5 linked regions of the Homo sapiens genome follow. The protein of the gene in region 1 purifies or fractionates together with the protein of each later gene. This does not show direct contact. Each region holds a gene or a part of one and is shown in the gene's direction. Other genes may lie near its edges. The genes, in order: DCBLD2, SLC7A8, C1QTNF9, CELA3A and TSPAN15.

Region 1 (4,393 bases):
AGTATTAACCATCACAGTATTTAATTCGTAATAGCTTTTTGTTTCCATTGTAATGAGACTCTTTTTTTAAGGTAGTGTTTCAGTAAAGTGGTCTTGAGACATCTAAAATAACGGTCTCCTACAGTCATTAAGAGAAATTTATGTTAAAGGAGTCCATTTTAAATGATGAGATCATTAATTTTCCACATGTGGAGAGTATAAATTTAATTTAGGGGAACTTAGCAAATGGTCGGAATAATTGGTTGGGATTGGTTTAATTTTGTTAAAATATTTATTTTGTTTTGGTACTGTAAATAATACCAATAATCATCTTTAATCTGTTCATTCCCAGGAAGTCATCTTACCCAGTAGTCAAAATCTATTTTACGACGTTATAAACACAAGACACCAAAACAGAATAGTTCTTTACTTAATTAATGCCCACCCATAATCCTTCCTCTCTCTCCAAGGGAATAAGGCCAAGGATTTAGTAATTGTTATGACAAAAACGTGCACTTGGATATGGAAATGAGCCATAATTAGAAATGTTCGAGCTGTGCATTTCAAGTGTTTATACTTTGATGCTGAACAAACTTAGGGAATCAGACCATGTGCATTAATGAAAGCAACTCTTCATTCCCCAGGCATTATAACCACTGGATCCACCATGGTGGAGCACAATTACTATGTGTCTGCCTACAGAATCCTGTACAGTGATGATGGGCAGAAATGGACTGTGTACAGAGAGCCTGGTGTGGAGCAAGATAAGGTAAAATGATTACCAAGGTATTTTTAAAAAACATTTTTTAAATGGGTGGTTGCCAAGTCACAGAGCTCTCCTGTATAAAAGAGATGTAGAAGTTTAGAATGTCTTATACTACCCTCTTGTGGTTATTTTAGGTAGTGTTATTGGCCTTACTCTACTGACTTTAGAAAATTCTCAGTAGTTCTAGGTTCCTTTTGGTGATTGTAACGGTGAGTACTTTTCTGATTTTTGTCATTGCATTTTTAATTGAATTGTTTAGACACTTTATTAAGAAAGTCTAAAAGGGACCTTGTAATTTCTTATTTTTATGAAGCTTTTTTCAATTCACCAGATGATGGAGAGCCTTTGTTCCCAGATTTCTACTCTGTAGGCAAGAGGTAAAAAAAGAAAAAAGCTGAAAACCAACGTGCATTAAATTATAGGATATTAGAGATGAAAATTCATCTGAAGATCATCTCACCAACTTTCATCTTGGGAAACTTCTGTTTTTTCTTACATGAAGAATTGCTCTAGCATCTAATTATGGAATCTTTGTTTTAGTTAGCAACAATTTATGAAGATGCTGGAATGAGCCAGAGGAAATGATAAGGGGTGGGGAGCAGGCAGAGATGGGTCTTATTCAGATGTGTATCCCTTTGATCTTTAAATGGAGAAGTCCTTGTGCCTAAGGAAGATAGATGTCTCCCATCAGTACCAAAACTATGGGGCTGGGCATGATGGCTCACTCCTGTAATCACAGCACTTTGGGATTGCTTGAGCTCAGGAGTTTGAAACCAGCCTGGGCAACATGGCAACACGCCATCTCCACTAAAAATACAGAAAATTAGCCAGGCATGGTGGCGCATGCCTGTAGTCCCAGTTTCTTGGGAGGCTGAGGTGGGAGAATCACCTGAACCCAGGAGGTTGAGGCTGCAGTGAGCTGTGATCACTCCACTGCAATCCAGCCTGGGCGACAGAGGGAGACTCTGTCTCAAAGTGGAAAAAAAAGAACTGAAACAATGATGACATTTTTTCAAACTTTCCTATGAGTTTGATTTTGATTATATATTTTTGTTTTTTATCATGTATGATTTGCTAAAAAGTCTTCAATTACTACTTTTCTCATCTCTTTGTTCAAAAACCTCCAGGGGCTCATTATCTTTCATATGCATCTTAACTCCTCTGCTTTTATTCAAGGCCTCTTTCTTCTCTTCTACTTGGCGTCACATGAACTTCATCTTTGGTGAGCCTCTCCCTGTTAAAGAAAATAACAATACTGTCTCCATACATATCTTCTACCTCATGCCCCTAAACTTGACTACTCTTTACTCCTGCCACATCCATATTCATTTGTATCACATTTATTTTGCTTGTGGAATATAGCTAAATTTTTGGAATGTTAAGAATTGTTCAGGCTTATACTATAAAAACTTCTAAACATTAAATGATATTTCTGAAAAAGATTCTATGTTGCATTCATTTTTGAAAGGTAATTTCTCTAAGTGTAGAAATCTGGGTTGATCAGTGGTTTTTTGGTTTTTTTTTTTTTTTGGTTTTTCCTTTCAATAATTGAAATACGTTGTCTGCTGTTTGCTGGCTTGCATTGTTTTTGACAAGAATTCTGCTATTATTTCTGTTCCTCAATATGTGATATGTCTTTTTTTCTGTGGCTCCTTTTAAGGTTTTCTTTTTATCATTTGTTTTAAGCAGTTTGATTGATGTGGCTTTTTTATATTTTTCTTCTTTTTTTTTTGCGTGGGGTTCTTTGAGGTTTTTGGATCTGTAGGTTATGATTTGCATCAAATTTAGAAAATTGTAGTTCTTTTTTTTTCAAATATTTCCCTTCCCCAATTCTAATTTTATGAATATTATGACCCTTGAAGGTATCTTACCATTCACCAATGCTCCGTTCTTTATTTTTTTCAGTCTTTTTCTCTTTGTATTTTAGTTTGAAAGTTTTCTGTTTTGTCTTCAAGTTCACTAATCTATTCTTCTGAAATGTCTAATCTGTTAATCCCATCCAATGTATTTTTATCTCTGATACTGTATTTTTTATCTCTAGATGTTCAGTTTGGGAGTTTTAAGATGTCTCCAGTGTGTCTTTACATGCTCATGCTTTTCTCTATCTCTGGAACATGGAGCATATATAATAGCTCTTTTAATATCCTCATCTGCTAATGTTATCCTATGTCATATATGGGTCTTTTTATGTTGATTGATATTATGGATCATATTTTACCTGCCCGAATTTTTTTTATTGGATGCCAGACATTGTGTTACATTGTTTGGTGCTGGGGTTTTTTGTTATTAATATTCCCTTAAGTATTTTTGAGCTTTATTCTGGAATGTAGTTAAGCTACTGGAAACAATGTGATATTTTCAAGGCTTGCTTTTAAACTTCATTAGGCAGGACCTGGACAGCCTTCAGTTTTCTTATTTTTCTCCCCCACTGAGACAATACTGTTCTAAGTACTCACTGCAGCATCCCATGTATTATGAGGTTTCTCTGTTCTACCTCTTGGCAGTGTAAGGAATTCCCAGATCTACGGAGCTGTGAGACTTGTCCTGCTGACTCATTCCAGTGTTTCTTTTACTGGCCATAGGTCATTTCTTTACATGCAGCTGAAGATTTAAGGGATAACTCCTTATATATTCTAGAAGTGTCTCTCTCTCTCTCTCTCACTCACTCTATCTTTATAGCTCTCTTCTCTCCTAATCTCTGCCTACAAATTCTAGCTACCTTATTGGCCTCCCACTCTCAGCTCTGTCTCTGCAACTCAGTGAGACCGGCAGGCTCTGTTAGGGATCTCTCTCCCTGCACTGTGGCCTGGAAACTCTTCTATAGACAGTACTGGGGCAATAAATAGCAGGGTTCACCTTATTTGTTTCCCTTCTTTCCGTCATTATTGCCCAAGGCAGCCTGTTATCCAGTTTCTCAGGTACGTATAGGGCTGAACAATAAGTCTAATCCGTTACTCTTATGGTCAGAAATGCAAATCTTCACATTGAATTGTATGAATTAACAGTCTTTTCCCGCTCATGTAAGTCCATCTGCTCCCTCATCACCTCCAACCCAAGGGTAATTGGTGTATTCATTTTACCCCTTTTCTGAGCCTGCACATGTGCATGAGTACGCAGAGACTGCATTTGGTTTTGTTTTTAGAAAATGGGATTTATATATATATATACAATTTGTTTTCATAATATATCACTTTCTAACATTATGCCATATTTATGTGTGGTAATCAATAAAATTTAAGTTTCTTGAGGGTGGGAACTGTAGCAACCATATCCATTTTCTCTTCATGACACCTCACATACTTCTCTGTACATGAGGATTCTCAGTAAATGCTCATAGGTTGACTATAGCAAATCTTTTTTACTCAGTTTTTATAAAATTGAGACAGCAATATAGAGGAATATCTTAAAGATAGTTTTTATGTGTTAAAGTAATGATTTGTTATCGTCCCTGTTCCACTAATATAGTAAGAATGAAAATAATTGCCTTTCATTTTATTTCAGAGTAATATCTGAGGAAATCACGGGAGCTCACTAGTATGGAAGTTATTGTAACTGCAAAACAAACTTTTTAGGAAATGAAGGATATTAACACATCTTTCGAGATTTATAGTCTAATGCCAAGTGAATTAGCCAAGAAGAAATAGAGCC
Region 2 (4,393 bases), on another chromosome or scaffold:
GAATTCCTGGGTGAAGGGGCGCAGCCTTGTACCTTGCATGCCTTGGGGCCTAGGGAAGAAGCTGAGATCACAGACCCAGTTGTTTAGAGTGACTTAGGTTGGCTTGTCACCAGGCACATGATCCTGAAATCCTTATTGAATTGAGTAAGACAAACCAAATGTGTATTTATCAGGATGTCAGTCCGTCTGGAACATTTGAGTATTTACAAAGTGTTCTCCCTGCTCGGGCACTTAAAATCCTTCCTCTGACAACATGTTTTGCTTCTCCTTGCATGACATCATCTTGGATAATAGCTCTTCCATGAGGAGTCAGGAGCTTCTGCTCTTGAAGTCAAGTTCCCTGTTGCCCTTTGGCAACATGAAGCCAACTAGGGATTGTGTCTCCTTTTGATGGGGTTCCTGGGGAGCAGAAGAGGTTGATGTGCGCTGTGGAATGTGTAGACTGAGATGATATTGGAAGGCTAATGAATTGTGATATTTTAAAATTCATTTATTAAATACTTGCTGAGCATCTACTATTTGCAGGCGCCAATGATAAGTCCTGAGATTTAAAAACATGAAAACATTTACTTGCCCTTGGTGTCTTAAAAAAAAAAAAATTTTTTTTTCTTTTTTTTTTGAGATGTGGTCTAGCTCTGTCACCCACGCTGGAGAACACTGGCACAATCTCGGCTCACTGCAACCTCCGCCTCCCGGGTACAAGTGATTTTCCTGCCTCAGCCTCCTGAGTAGCTGGGATTACAGGCGCGCCACCACCACGCCCAGCTAATTTTTGTATTTTTGGTAGAGACGGGTTTCACTGTGTTAGCCAGACTGGTCTCGAACTCCTGACCTCATGATCTGCCCACCTTGACCTCCCAAAGTGCTGGGATTACAAGCGTGAGCCACCATGCCCGGCCAGAAGCAGGTCATTTTAATACAAAGAAATGCATCCCGGCCGGGCGGTGGCTCCTGCCTGTAATCCCAGCACTTTGGGAGGCTGAGGATCATGAGATCAGGAGATCGAGACCATTCTGGCTAACACGGTGAAACCCTGTCTTTACTAAAAATACAAAAAATTAGCTGGGTGTGGTGGCGGGCGCCTGTAGTCCCAGCTGAGGCAGGAGAATGGCGTGAACCCAGGAGGCAGAGCTTGCAGTGAGCCGAGATCGCGCCACTGCACTCCAGCCTGAGCGACAGAGTGAGACTCCGTCTCAGAAAAAAAAAAAAAAAGAAAAAGAAAAAAGAAATACATCCCAACATTAGATATAAACAAAGTGGTCTGGGATTGTTCTAGAGAGAAGGAACAAACTTTGTTCCTCGTCTACAAAACACAGCTGATATATCTTCCCTTGCAGGCATGTTGTTAGGAATAAATAACATGCTGAATTATAGAGATTCACAGAACAGGTGACATTTAAGCTGGATCTTGAAAGAGGAGAAGGGGTTTGCCAGGTGGAGATGGCGCACAAAGGAAGGTTACAGACGGTTAATGTCAGGACCATCCTACCCTAACCAAATGTTCTCAGCATCAAATAAGGTTGGGAAATACTTGGAAAGTAGAAGTACCATATAAGAATACGGTACTGATAAAACTTGATCAGCCATTCAAGTGAAGTCAGAGCGACCACACCACCCAGCTTATTTTTAAAATTTTTTGTAGAGAATTACAACTCCCCATGCCACCAAAGAAGATTTGTAAATGGATGGTAAATAAGCACATGAAGAGTTGCTCAACATCATTAGCCATTAGGGAAATGCAAATCAAAACCATAATGAAATACAACTACATGCCTATTAGCCAAAAAAAAAAAAAAAAAAAAAATTGTGTTTAAACTGACAATACCAAATGCTGGGAAAGATACAGAGCAACAGGAACTCTGACATGAGAGTAGGAATGCAAAATGAGACAGCCACTGTGGAAGACAGTTTGGCAGTTTCTTAGAAAGTTAAACACATTTACTCTATGGCCCAGGATCTCATTCCTGGGGATTTACTCAAGAGCAATGAAAACCCCACTCAAAGATCTCTACAATCCACAAAAAGAAAAAAGACATCTACACAAGTATTTATCACAACTCTATTCATAATAGTCCCACACTGTGAGCAACCCAAATGTCTATGGAAAAACAAACAGATACCTTTATATCATAGAATGCTATTTGGCAATAGAAAGGAACAAATTGTAATATATGCAACAACATGAGTAGATCTCGAAAGCATTCTGTGAAGTGAAAGAAGCCAAACACAGAAGACCACATATTATATGATTCCATTTATGTGACATTTTGAAAAAGACAAAGCTATAGGGACAGAAGTCAAAGTAATGGTTGTAGAGGTAGGGGAAGAAGATTTGCCTAACTGACTACAAAGGAGCATGATGCAAAAGGAAACTTTTTAGAGTGTTGGGAATGTTCTATATATGAAGTGCTGAAGTGATTAAGCCATTAAATGCATTTGTCAAATCTCATCAAACTGTACACTTTAAAAAGGTGAGTTTTAGTAAGATGTAGATTATATCTCAATAAACCTAAGTAACATAAGATTCCCCTAAGCCTCTGTTACCCCAAAATCAGGCTCAGGAAGGTGGCTTCCTGACTCCCACCAGCTGCTCACAGCTTCTCTTGCACAAATAATAACTTGAAGACAAAGCCCATACTTGTGCCCTGATCAGATGTGATTTTACCCCCAAAGCCAGTGCCTACACTTCCATGCCTACTTCTGGCTTCCAGCCCTCAGCAGGGCATGCTGGGCCCAAGCTCTAATTTGGGACATATAATCCCCATTTGCAACCCATTAACCTAGCCAAAGTCTCTGGTCCCTGGGGTTGAGCTTGCTGGATGTCTGGCTCACCTACTACAATGTCATCGTCAGGATGAGGGAGCAGTTCTGCTTGTGTGCCTTGGGCATCATGCAGCCAGATACAGCCCCTGAAGGTCTGTTTGGGGGTCTTTCATTTCAGTGCTCCTCACATGGGTCAACTGTTCCAGTGTGCGGTGGGCCACCCGGGTTCAAGACATCTTCACAGCTGGGAAGCTCCTGGCCTTGGCCCTGATTATCATCATGGGGATTGTACAGATATGCAAAGGTGAGTATCGCAGGAAAAACAGGTACTGCCCAGCTTTCCTCCCCTTGCATGTACACACCCTCTCAGCCCAGCTTTGGAAGTATGCCACACCCTGAGATTTCCCCAATTCTAGCCTTGAGTGACTTCTCTTCTTCTTCCCTTGCTTGACAAAAGGGAAGGAGAAACCATTTTCCCCGAGGTGGCTGGGAGTAGGGAATGCTCCCTTTAGGCTGCAAAGGTCACCTCTCCCATGCTTACCTCAAGGCTGTAGCACAGCTAGGTAAAGACCCCACATATCGGCCGAGTGTGGTGGCTCACACCTGTAATCCCAGCACTTAGGAAGGATGAGGCAGGAGGATCACTTGAGCCCAGGAGTTTGAGACTAGCCTGAACAGCACAGCGAGATCCCATCTCTACAAAAAAATTTAAAAATTAATGGGGCATGGTGGTGCATGGCTGTGGTCTCACTTACTCTGGAGGCTAAGGTGGGAGGATCACCTGAGCCCAGGAGTTTGAGGCTGTAGTGAGCTATGATTGTGCCACTGCACTCCAGCCTGGGCGACTGAGCAAGACCTTGTCTCAAAAACAAATAAACAAACAAAAACCCCAGATCTCTAGATTCCTATTGTCTTTTTGCCCCAACCCCAGGGAAGCTCCCTGCATCTTCTGTTGAATCTTGTCCACATCTTAAAGTGGAGGACAGAGAAAGGTATTTTATGTTTCAAAATTACTTATAATCTCTGAGAGAGAGAGCTCTGCATTCCCGGGGCCCCTGCCAACATTCCCCACTGGATTTGGCCCTTTCCAAGCCTGAGGCTATATTTGGTTTCCATGGGACCCATGGCACCATGAGGCTCTGCCCAGCGTCACTGCCTCACGGAGAAAGTCAGGTGACAAACAGGGAAATTTCCCACAAGCCCTGAAGGCAGTGTGGGCAGCCCGGACTTCTACTCCAGGAAACATAATTAAGTTTCTGCTATATAATATGCCTGATTATTTTAAACAGTTGGATTAAGTTCTTTAACAGGTTATATATTGCTTTCAGGCATTTAGACTTAAGGAAATCACTGCGCTATCTTGTCAAAAATAGTGAGTCCCTCCTAAGCTGGCCTCAATTCTTTCTCCTGGTCACACTAATCTCCTTATTTCCTGTCCCAATGCTAAACTGCAGATGAATAAGTAACATATGATCAGTTACTCTCTATCTCATTGAAATTTTAGCCAGTCAGCAGATGATTCCAAGGGCCCACAGTCTGCAGCACACTGTGCTAGGGGGGCTGGGAAGGCAGTTTAAACAGCTCTTTGCTTAAAAATTCCTGTCCTTGGGGAATCTTGAAAAGAGAGACG
Region 3 (4,393 bases), on another chromosome or scaffold:
CTTTTGCTCATCCCCATGGCCCGTAATCTAGCTCATGGTCATACCCAGGCTGCAAGGGAGGCTAGGGAGTGCAGTCTATCATGGGCCCCTAGAAGCCCAGCTAAAATTTCTATTACTCTGGATGAAGGTGAGAAGGGGTGTTGGAGATTACTAGCAACTCCACGAAAGCACTGACAAGGATCAGAGTTGATACCCAGTCACCTTCCCAAGTGATGGTCCACACACAGTTGGAACCAGGATAGTATTTCTTGCATGCCTGCATTGATTCATTCAACAAATACTTGACTGAAAATAAGGAAGTAGAAAAATGCAGTCACCATCTTCATAAAGCTCTAACCCAGGTTGGTGCCTACTAAGTGATCATTAGTCTAGGTGTGGTGTACAGAGTAAGTGGGGACTGGGGAGGACAGTAATTCAGATGAGAGAGAGAGTGGATGATTGCAGGGAAAGATGGGAGACAGAAGAGGCTCCTAGCTCTAGTGCCTTCTGGGAAAAGACCAGACCCAGAAATTAAAAGTCAAGAGTGTAACTGTAGTTGAACTAATGAAACTGAGGGTCCAACCCATAGCTTTGTGAGAGGCACAAATGTAATTTTTTATTTTTCAAAATAACATTAATATAATTTCTTCTATATTCCTTGTGCAAATCCTCAACCTTCTACATTAAAGAAGAGGCTAAATAGGAGGTATAAACTTGCTAAAATTTCTTATTAAAAAATAGTGCCAAGCGGCCGTGTGCAGTGACTCACACCTGTAATCCCAGCACTTTGGGAGGCCGAGGTGGGCGAATCACAAGGTCAGGAAATCGAGACCATCCTGGCTAACATGGTGAAACCCCGTCTCTACTAAAATACAAAAAATTACCCGGGCATGGTAGTGGGTGCCTGTAGTCCCAGCTACTCGGGAGGCTGAGGCAGGAGAATGGTGCGAACCCGGGAGGCAGAGCTTGCAGTGAGCCAAGATCGCGCCACTGCACTCCAGCCTGGGCGACAGAGCGAGACTCTATCTCAAAAAAAAAAAAAAAGAAAAAAAAAATAGTGCCAACCTAGGTGGTGACCACGTCTCTAATCCCAGCTATTCAGAAGGCTGAGGCAGGAGGACCACTTAAGCCTAGAAGTTCGAGTCCAGCCTGGGCAACATTCATGAGACTGTATCTCTATAAACAAACAAACAAACAAACAAATAAAACAGAAATAGTGGCACAACTTACTTTGCTACGTATTTGGGAGAACGCATATTAGTTAATCAAAATCATTTGCTGAAGGTTGTCTACATGCTGTATAAACAAGCTAGATAGACTCTACCTACATCAAATATGCAAAACTAGTGAAATAATTACAGAAGAGTAACCATTTGCTTCCAGGCTGGCTTCTTCTTCCCTGGAGAGCAAATTGGAGTTTATCCTAACCTGACACCTTTATGATCTTCTGATCATTTTATTCCTGGAATAGTTGTACTCCACATTTTGAAAAGTTAAAATGAAAATTATAGAACCCTCAACAAAGTTTGGTTGATGGAATTTCGATTTGACTGCTTCCGGCCACTTCTGAGTTTAGCAAAGGAGGCTCGTGTATATTCTTCATGGAATTTGGCTCCAAGAAAACTCAACTCAATTTCCTGGAATGGAGCGAATTTGTGACTTCGAAGGGAAGCATCTGCATTTCCTTTCCCAAAAATACTCCATTTGCATTAGACTGCTCCCTGTGACATTTCCACCAGATGGCAATACAGTCTTTGGATGACAGAGAGTCTTGCTGGTTTTCAAAATCTCTAGAAATATTTGTGTAGGCACTATAAAAAAGCATTTTTTATAAATGAAAAGCTCCCATAACTGCCCCCCATTCTAAAGCAACCATCTTTATTTGCATATATTCACTTTGAGTTTTTGTCAATATTCATACAGTCGTAAGTACATTTATAATGTGCATGGCATTTTAGTCTACTATCAAAATTCAGCACAATGTATATCATTTACATATTTCTACATGACCTTCATAATTATTGCAGCAGTTACATACTATTACACATAGTAAACCTTTCCCCTATTGTTACATAGTATGTAGTATGCACGTTTTCACCTGTTATAGATAATGCTGCAGGTAATGGCACACAATTGGCACACAGTTTTGGAACATTAGGAAGAATTTTAGGGATAGCAATACAGGGTGAAAGACATAGATGTCTTTTGCTCTTTAACTTTTCCAGAAAGATGTGCAGATTTACATGGCTATCAGCACTGTGAGAGGATCTGGGTTCTGACCAGTTGCACTATGCCCACGTTTTTGTTTTACTTCATTTTTTTAAATCCTAAAAGTCAGGTACAGGGTCTTTAGCCTGTAATACTAGCACTTTGGGAGACTGGCGGGAGGATTACTTGAGCTCAGGATTTCAAGACCAGCCTGGGCAACAGAGTGAGACCCAGTCTCTCCAAAGAAAAAAAAAAAAAGAAAGAAAGAAAAATAGGCAATGGCTCATGCCTGTAATCCCAGCACTTTGGGAGGCCAAGACAGGCAGATCACCTGAGGTCAAGAGTTTGAGACCAGCCTGGCCAGCATGGTGAAACCCCGTCTCTACTAAAAATACAAAAATTAGCTAGGCGTGGTGGTGGCGCCTGTAGTCCCAGCTACTTGAGAAGCCGAATTGCTTGAACCTGGGAGGCAGAGGCAGCAGTGAGCAGAGATCGGCCATTGCACTCCAGCTTGGGCCACAAGGGCGAAACTGCATCTCGAAAACAAAACAAAACAAAACCAAACCCAGGTGTGGTGGTGCATGCCTGTAGTCCCAGCTACTTGGGAGGTTGAAGCAAGAGAATCGCTTGAGCTGGGAGGTTGAGACTACAGTGAGCTGTGATTGCATGACTGTACTTCAGCCTGCGTGATGGAGCAAGACCTTGTCTCCAAAAATTATATATAAGGAAAGGACTTGAAAATGCATTTCTCCCGAACTAGGTGATGTTTCCGTGTGTGTGGCCCTTCTTCACAGTGGCCTCCTAGAAAAACAAGACCCTGACTCAAAGAACACCTCTCACTACAGTAAGACTTCTTGGAATGCTTTACTTTTTTAAAAATTTAATTTAATTGTTTAATGTGGTAAAAAATATATAACATAAAACGTAAAACTAACCAGCTTAACCATCTTAAGGGCACAATTCAGTGGCATTATGTACGTTCTCTTTGTTGTGCAACCATCACCACCACCCATCTCCAGAACTCTTTTAAAATCTTCCCAAACAGAAACTCTGTACCCATCAAACAACTCCCATTTCCTTCTCTCTTCACCTCTGGCAACCTCCATCCTACTTTTTCTTTATATGAGTTTGACGGCTCTAGGAACCTCTTATAGGTGAAATTATCCAGGTCTGTCTTTTTGTGACTAGCTGGTTTCACTTCGCATAATGTTCTCGAGGTCCATTCATGTTGTAACATGTGTCAGAATTTCTTCTCTTTCTAAGGCTGAAGAATATTCCATTGTATGGACCTACCACATTGCATGTATCTATTTATCCACTGAGGGACCCTTGGGTTGCTATGGAAAATAATGCAACTACGAACATGGACATCTGTTCCAGTCCTTGCTTTCAATTATTTTGTGTAGATGCACAGCAGTGGAATTGCTGGATCAGATGGTAATGCTATGTTTGCTTCACTACTTGGAATGTGCCTTTATGCATATCGTGATAAAATTTGATCTGTACGACAGTCCTGTGAGATAAGTAAGCATTGATCTCTGGTTCAGAAAAGTGATTTCTTCAAAGTGAAATGATGAACGGAAGAGTATCCTGACCTTAAACTTGGCTTTTTAAATTGCCCGTTCACCTTGAAGAGTGGTTCCAATCACAAGTGTTACCTTCCAAGGACAGTGTCATTCTGGTTATAATCAGCTTGCTCCCCTGCCCTGAGCCTTCTGTCCAAGTTTGTGCAGGTGTGGGTCTGGGGCAGGGGACAGCTCATCCATTTCCCACTGCACGGAACAGAGGCTGTGTCCAGGGCCCCAGCAACAAAGATTTCTCCTTTGGGTTTCTGTTTCCCTCTTTCAGTTCAGAGTCTGTCATCTGAACCATGAGGATCTGGTGGCTTCTGCTTGCCATTGAAATCTGCACAGGGAACATAAACTCACAGGACACCTGCAGGCAAGGGCACCCTGGAATCCCTGGGAACCCCGGTCACAATGGTCTGCCTGGAAGAGATGGACGAGACGGAGCGAAGGGTGACAAAGGCGATGCAGGTACTCACCTGACGGCTTCGGCTGCCTTTCAACTTCTCTCTTCATTCCTTTCATCTCATTCACTCATCATCTGTGTGATTTTCCACCTACCCACTCACACCCCATCCATCCATACATACATCAACCCAGCAACACTCACTGGAGCCTGACCCCATTCATCCATCCACCCA
Region 4 (4,393 bases), on another chromosome or scaffold:
TGTGCAGGACCTTGGAATGGGGCCAACTGCCTGGAAGGTGGAGGAAGGATCTTGCCTGCTTGCCCCATTCAGCCTCCAGGCCAGGCAGGACTTGGAGGAAATCAGCGCAGTCCAGACACAGAGCCCAGGCCTGGGAGTCAGGACCCCCGGGTTGCAGTCTCAGCTCACACACTGACATGACTTGGGACAAGTCACTGTGTCTCCCTGGTCCTCAGGCTTCCGCATCAGCACAGCAGGAGATACTGGTCCCATGACCTCTAACGCAGGTCAATTCTGTGGTTCTAAAGTTATAATTAACCATTAAGAATACCATCATTGTTCTGGGCACAGTCCCTCCTGCCTATAATCCAAGTGCTTTGGGAGGCTGAGGTGGGAGGATTGCTTGAGGCTAGGAGTTTGAGACCAGCCTAGGTAATATAGTGAGATGCCCATCTACAGAAAAACTTTTTTTACTTAGTCAGGCATGGTGGCACTCGCCTGTAGTCCCAACTACTTGATAGGCTGAGGTGGGAGGATTGTTTGAGCCTGGGAGTTCAAGCTCACAGTGGCTATGATTTTTGCCACTGCACCCAAGCCTGGCGACACAGCAAGACGTTGTCTCTTTTTTTTTTTTTTTTGAGACAGGATCTTGCTCTGTTGCCCAGGCTGGAGTGCAGTAATGCCATCATAGCCCACTGTAGCCTTGCCCTCCTGGGCTCAAGCAACCCTCCAATGTCAGCCTCCCAAGCAGCCAGGAGTACAAGTGTGTGCCACAATGCCTAGCTAATTTTTAAATTTTTTGTAGAGATGAGGTCTCACCATGTTGCCCAGGCTGGTCTCTAACTCTTGGGCTCAAGTAATCCTCCTGCCTTGGCCTTCCAAAGTGTTATGTTTACAGATGTGAGCCACTTTCCTGGCCAAGACCTTGTCTAAGAAAAAAAAACAAAGGCTGGGCGCGGTGGCTCACGCCTGTAATCCCAGCACTTTGGGAGGCCGAGCCGGGCGGATCACGAGGTCAGGAGATCGAGATCATCCTGGCTAACATGGTGAAACCTCGTCTCTACTAAACACACAAAAAGTTAGCCGGGTGTGGTGGTGGGCGCCTGTAGTCCCAGCTACTCGGGAGGCTGAGGCAGGAGAATGGTGTGAACCCAGGAGTTGGAGCTTGCCGTGAGCCGAGATCGCGCCACTGCACTCCAACCTGGGTGACAGAGCGAGACGCTGACTCAGAAAAAAAAAAAATACTATCAAATACCCTCATTGTATTGTAATTGAGTATGAATTAATAATTAACTATGGTGCCACTAATAAGAACTATGTTTATCGAGTGCTTCTTCTCTACTGGATATCGTGCTAAGATCGTGCATCATCTCATGTAATTCCCTAGGCTCTTGGACAGATACTACTATTCCCTATCACAAATGAGTCAGCTGGCTGGGCGTGGTGGCTCACACCTATAATCCCTTTGGGAGGCCCCGGCAGGTGGATCACCTGAGGTCAGGACTTTGAGACTAACCTGGCCAACATGGTGAAATCCCATCTCTATTAAATATGGCTGGGTGCAGTGACTCACGCCTGTAATCCCAGCACTTCGGGAGGCTGAGGCGGGCGGATCACGTGGTCAGGAGATCGAGACCATCCTGGCTAACACGGTGAAACCCCGTCTCTACGAAAAATACAAAAATTAGCCGGGCGTGGTAGTGGGCACCTATAGTCCCAGCTACTTGGGAGGCTGAGGCAGGAGAATGGCGTGAACCCTGGAGGCAGAGCTTGCAGTGAGCTGAGATCCTGCCACTGTACTCCAGCCTGGGCGTCAGAGTGAGACTTCGTCTCTAATAAAAAATAAATAAATAAATAAACAAAAATTAGCCGGGTGTGGTGGCAGGTGCCTGTAATCCCAGCTACTTGGGAGGCTGAAGCAGGAGAATCACTTGAACCTGGGAGCCGGGAGACGGAGGTTGCAATGAGCCAAGCTTGCGCCACTGCACTCCAGCCTGGACAGCAGAGCGAGACTCCATCTAAAAAAATAAAAATAATAAATGATAAAAAAATGAGCGAGCTAAGGCTCAGAGGTGTCAAGTAATGTCAGAGTTTCTTGAAATCCCTAGAATTCAGAACCAGTTCCGTAAACCTCAGACATGGCTCAGCCACCCACTCCTCTCTGACGGTTCCAGGGTGACTCTGGAGGACCCCTCAACTGCCCCACAGAGGATGGTGGCTGGCAGGTCCACGGTGTGACCAGCTTTGTTTCTGCCTTTGGCTGCAACTTCATCTGGAAGCCCACGGTGTTCACTCGAGTCTCCGCCTTCATCGACTGGATTGAGGAGGTGAGGAGGGCAGGGCGGCCCGGAGGGCTTTAGGGTGGTGGCTCTTCTGAGAGGTGACAGGTGAGAAACATCGGATCCTGGGGAGGGCCTGAAAGGATCCTAGAAGCTCAGTGGGGAAGGGCCCTTGGGGACATTCCAGAAAGGCTTGGGGATGTTTTCTGATACAGTGTGACCCCAGGAACTTGATGGCTTCTGGGTGGTGCTTGGAACTACAGCTGAACTTCCTTATTTCAACAAGTATTTATAAAGTATCTCCTCTGGTCTTGTCCTCTCTTGTCAGGGAGGATAGAGAGACATGCCAGACAAGAGGCTGCCTGGTGGGGGACAGGTGATTACATGAATGAGAACGATGCAGTCTGATGAGAGCCGAGAGAGGGGAGTCCAGGCCCCAGACTTCATCTGGGGATGGGTGATCAGAGAGGACTAATAACGCTCATGGTAACAGTAATAGCTAAACAACAAAAAAAAAGAGAGTAATAGCTGGGCATGGCATAGTCATGCCTGTAATCCCAGCACTTTGGGAAGCAGAGGCAGGTGGATCACGAGGTTAGGAGTTCAAGACCAGCCTGGCCAAGATGGTGAAACCCTGTCTCTACTAAAAATACAAAAATTAGCCGGGCATGGTGGTGGGTGCCTGTAATCCCAGCTGCTTGGGAGGCTCAGGCAGAGAATTGCTTGAACCTGGGAGGTGGAGGTTGCAGTTAGTCGAGATCATACCACTGCACTGCAGCCTGGGTGACAGAGCGAGACTCCGTCTCAAAAAAAAAAAAAAAAAAAAAAGAGTAATAGCTAGCTGGGTGCAGTGATGCCCACCTGTAGTCCCAGCTACTTGGGAGGCTGAGGCAGGAGGATCGGTTGAGCCCTGGAGTTCTGGGCCATAGTGCGCTATACCCATCAGGTTCTGCACCAAGTTTGGCATCAATGTGGTGACCTCCTGGGAGTGGGGACCACCAGGTGGCCTAAGGAGGGGTGAACTGTCCCAGGTCAGAAACAGAGCAGGTCAAAACTCACATGCTGAAAAGTAGTAGGATCACACCTGTGAATAGCCACTGTACTCCAGCCTGGGCAACACAGCAAGAGCCTCTCTCTTAAAAAAATGAAAATAAACTAAATAAAATAAAACAGTAGTGCTTGCTTTGGCAGCACATGTACTAAAATTGGAATGATATAGAGATTAGCACGGCCCCTGCGCAAGGATGACATGCAAAGTCATGAAGCCTTCCAATAAAAAAACATTTCTGGTCGAGTGCAGTGGTTCATGCCTGTAATCCCAGCACTCTGGGAGGCCAAGGCCCATGGATCACCTGAGGTCAGGAGTTCAAGACCAGCCTGGCCGACATGGTGAAACCCCATCTCTACTAAGAATACAAAAAATTAGCCGGGCGTATTGGTGCATGCCTGTGGTCCCAGCTACTCAGGAGGCTGAGGCAGGAGAACTGCTTGAATCTGGGAGGCGGAGGTTGCAGTGAGCCGAGATTACGCCACTGCACTCCAGCCTGGGTGACAGAGCAAGACTCCATCTCAAAAACAAAAACAAACAAACAAACAAAAAAACAGTGATGATTTATAGACCATTTAATCCCTTGGTTCCCTGACCCATGTTAAAAAAATATATATATAAGGCCAGGCACGGTGGCTCATGCCTGTAATCCAAGCACTTTGGTAGGCCAAGGCAGGTGGATCACAAGGTCAGGAGTTCGAGACCAGCCTGGCCAATATGGTGAAACCCTGTCTCTACAAAAATATAAAAAAATTGGCCAGGCGTGGTAGTGCGTCGCTGTAATCTCAGCTACTTGGGAGGTTGAGGCAGAAGAATTGCTCGAACTCAGGAGGCAGAGGTTGCAGTAAGCTGAGATTGTGCCACTGCCCTCCAGCCTCGGTGACAGAGCAAGACTCTGTCTTAAAAAAAAAAAAAGGCCGGGCGTGGTGGCTCACACCCGTAATCCCACCACTTTGGGAGGCCGAGGTGGGCAGATCACGAGGTCAGGAGATTGAGACCATCCTGGCTAACACGGTGAAATCCCATCTGTACTAAAAATACAAAAATTAGCCAGGCATGGTGGCGTACGCCTGTAGTCCCAGCTACT
Region 5 (3,244 bases), on another chromosome or scaffold:
ACAATTCTTGATAAAGTTCTGAATTAAATAATGTGTAATCATTCCTTAATTTACCTAGTAGTACTTCTGGAAAATTCTTTGTATATTAAAACCAATGCAGAAATGCTTTTTTTTTTTTTTTCCCTTAAGAGACAGACAGGGTCTCACTGTTGCCTAGGCTGGCCTCAAACTCCTAGGCTTAGGCACTCCTCCCAACTGAGCCTCCATAGTAGCTGGGACTGCAGGCACTGGCCACCATGCCCAACTCTGCTTTGTTTTTTATATGTACCTGGAGTGGGGCTATTGGCTTGGATAATTATAAATAGGCTTTTCATGTATGGAAAACATCCGTGAGGCTTTTCATGCAGGGACATCTGAGAAGCACACAGGCAGGGCAGTTGTTTGTGGAGTAGGATTACCCTGAGCTCTGCAGTCCCTCAGCCGCCAACCTCGTTTGCTGGGGCAACCAAAAGTGCCACCACGGTGTCCCCAGTCCTCTCTAGAGAACAGTACTGTCCATTAAGAATCAGAATCTAGGGTCACCTTCTCATGCTGCATATGGGAAACTGAGGATCACAGCGGTTGAGGGACTAGCCTGGACCTTGTGTACATGGCAGAGTCGGGGCTGTGGCTCCTGCCAGCCGAGGTCCTCTGCTGGGCTGACCCAGCTCCTTCCCATGCAGCGTTTCAGTGTGCAGGATGTCATCTACGTGCGGGGCTGCACCAACGCCGTGATCATCTGGTTCATGGACAACTACACCATCATGGCGGGCATCCTCCTGGGCATCCTGCTTCCCCAGGTGGGCAGGCCGTGGGTTCAGAGAAAGTGTGACTTGGTGATTGCAGAAGGGCAGAGAAGGTGCAGAGGGGAAGAGCGAAGAGGCTTTTTTCATAGAAGTCCAGGACTTGCCTGGGGAGGGCTGCATGGCTGGAAGGAGGGGCAAATGGCAATAGCAGTCGTGGCGAAGCTCTTCCAAGTGCTGCGCAGGCACTGCTGCTTCACTTCTTTTTGTGAGGGAGGCACTATTATAATGCCTATTTCACAGAGGAGGAAACTGAGGAGCAGCAAGCTTCAGTGACTTGCCAAGATCCCCTAGATAGTGTGCAGCAGAGCTGGGGTGGAGGCAGGAATCCCAGAAGGGAGGGGCCCTTGCTGATGGGGCACAGCGAGGCGCTCTGGGATTTCCTGGGAAGGGGAGAGGGGGCCCAGGTGGGAGCTTCTTGGGCAGTGTGGGTGCTGGGAGAAGTCTCTGCTGTGGGTGTTGCCCAGGTCACACAGGACCATGAGGGCTTGGGACTGGCTGCTTGGGTTTCTGGGAGCCGGGAGCTGCAGGGAGGGCTGCCCTGATTCCCAGCAGGCCCTCACCAGCCCTGCCCCTTCTTCTCAGTTCCTGGGGGTGCTGCTGACGCTGCTGTACATCACCCGGGTGGAGGACATCATCATGGAGCACTCTGTCACTGATGGGCTCCTGGGGCCCGGTGCCAAGCCCAGCGTGGAGGCGGCAGGCACGGGATGCTGCTTGTGCTACCCCAATTAGGGCCCAGCCTGCCATGGCAGCTCCAACAAGGACCGTCTGGGATAGCACCTCTCAGTCAACATCGTGGGGCTGGACAGGGCTGCGGCCCCTCTGCCCACACTCAGTACTGACCAAAGCCAGGGCTGTGTGTGCCTGTGTGTAGGTCCCACGGCCTCTGCCTCCCCAGGGAGCAGAGCCTGGGCCTCCCCTAAGAGGCTTTCCCCGAGGCAGCTCTGGAATCTGTGCCCACCTGGGGCCTGGGGAACAAGGCCCTCCTTTCTCCAGGCCTGGGCTACGGGGGAGGGAGAGCCTGAGGCTCTGCTCAGGGCCCATTTCATCTCTGGCAGTGCCTTGGCGGTGGTATTCAAGGCAGTTTTGTAGCACCTGTAATTGGGGAGAGGGAGTGTGCCCCTCGGGGCAGGAGGGAAGGGCATCTGGGGAAGGGCAGGAGGGAAGAGCTGTCCATGCAGCCACGCCCATGGCCAGGTTGGCCTCTTCTCAGCCTCCCAGGTGCCTTGAGCCCTCTTGCAAGGGCGGCTGCTTCCTTGAGCCTAGTTTTTTTACGTGATTTTTGTAACATTCATTTTTTTGTACAGATAACAGGAGTTTCTGACTAATCAAAGCTGGTATTTCCCCGCATGTCTTATTCTTGCCCTTCCCCCAACCAGTTTGTTAATCAAACAATAAAAACATGTTTTTTTTTTTTTTTTTTTTTTGCCTTTCCTGTGTGCTGTTTTGTTGGGGCGGGGGTAAGGAAGGCTGCAACCTGGATTTGGAAACCCCTTGTGGATGCGAGGATGAAGGGGGTGCATGGGGTGAAGATTTGGCATAGCTTGGGATACAGGTGGGGGGTTGGGGGGAAAGCCTCAGGGCCAGAGGTGACCACGCCTATTTTACCGAGAACCGAGGGAAACAGCCTGGGCCAGGTACAGCATGAGGCTCCACCTCCAGGAAATGGGGTGGATGGGGTGGGGGACCAGGGAAGCGGAGTTGCCCACAGGTCCACCTACCGCGCTCCCTGCAGCCCTCAGTGTGCCTAATGGCTGCCGCGCAACGCATGCAGAGCGTGGTGTCGGTCGACCCCTGCTGGAGATGCCGGGACTTGCGTGCGTCAGTCCACTCAAACCTTCGGGCCAGAAGACATGGGATCTAGATTTTTTGTGAGGCTCTTAGTAGCCAGGGCAATAGAAATAAAGTAGCAAGAGGCCGGGCATGGTGGCTCACGCCTGTAACCCCAACACTTTGGGAGGCTGAGGTGGGCCATCACGAGGTCAGGTGTTCGAGACCAGCCTGACCAACATAGTGAAACCCCATCTCTACTAAAAATACAAAAATTAGCCGGGCATGGTGGTGCGCGCCTGTAGTTCCAGCTACTCAGGAGGCTGAGGCAGGAGAATCGCTTGAACCCGGGAGGCGGAGGTTGTGGTGAGCCGAGATCACACCACTGTACTCCAGCCTGGGCAACAGAGTGAGACTCCATCTCAAAAAAAAAAAAAAAAAAAAAAAAAAAAAAGAAGAAGAAATAAAGCAGCAAGAGCCCCAAACCTGAAGGATTCTAACGGTGGGAACCATCTACACACCCAGTAGTTAAGTGGTCAGATGCTTGGTCTGCCATGGGTGCCAAACGCATGTGTAAGAAGGGGCAGGAGGAGGGTATTTTAAAGTATGCAATAACACAACAATAACAAACACACCATAGAGCATACTTTGCCAGGAACGATATTAACTCCTTTAATCCTCACGACTAG

The links.
Region 2: the proteins of DCBLD2 (region 1) and SLC7A8 fractionate together in Homo sapiens (co-fractionation; one large-scale study listed by BioGRID). This does not show direct contact.
Region 3: the proteins of DCBLD2 (region 1) and C1QTNF9 purify together in Homo sapiens (co-immunoprecipitation; one large-scale study listed by IntAct). This does not show direct contact.
Region 4: the proteins of DCBLD2 (region 1) and CELA3A purify together in Homo sapiens (co-immunoprecipitation; one large-scale study listed by IntAct). This does not show direct contact.
Region 5: the proteins of DCBLD2 (region 1) and TSPAN15 purify together in Homo sapiens (co-immunoprecipitation; one large-scale study listed by IntAct). This does not show direct contact.

The regions. Positions count from the first base shown.
Region 1 is NC_000003.12:98,814,124-98,818,516, reverse strand, and holds part of DCBLD2 (discoidin, CUB and LCCL domain-containing protein 2 precursor), read left to right. Parts: intron 1-623; coding exon 624-748; intron 749-4,393.
Region 2 is NC_000014.9:23,141,753-23,146,145, reverse strand, and holds part of SLC7A8 (large neutral amino acids transporter small subunit 2), read left to right. Parts: intron 1-2,941; coding exon 2,942-3,067; intron 3,068-4,393. UniProt on the Homo sapiens protein: Associates with SLC3A2 to form a functional heterodimeric complex that translocates small and large neutral amino acids with broad specificity and a stoichiometry of 1:1.
Region 3 is NC_000013.11:24,311,947-24,316,339, forward strand, and holds part of C1QTNF9 (complement C1q and tumor necrosis factor-related protein 9A precursor), read left to right. Parts: intron 1-2,947; exon of another isoform or gene 2,948-3,031; intron 3,032-4,035; 5' UTR 4,036-4,057; coding exon 4,058-4,223; intron 4,224-4,393. UniProt on the Homo sapiens protein: Probable adipokine. Activates AMPK, AKT, and p44/42 MAPK signaling pathways.
Region 4 is NC_000001.11:22,007,552-22,011,944, forward strand, and holds part of CELA3A (chymotrypsin-like elastase family member 3A preproprotein), read left to right. Parts: intron 1-2,153; coding exon 2,154-2,306; intron 2,307-4,393. UniProt on the Homo sapiens protein: Efficient protease with alanine specificity but only little elastolytic activity.
Region 5 is NC_000010.11:69,505,462-69,508,705, forward strand, and holds the end of TSPAN15 (tetraspanin-15), read left to right. Parts: intron 1-662; coding exon 663-779; intron 780-1,367; coding exon 1,368-1,517; 3' UTR 1,518-2,205; downstream 2,206-3,244. UniProt on the Homo sapiens protein: Part of TspanC8 subgroup, composed of 6 members that interact with the transmembrane metalloprotease ADAM10.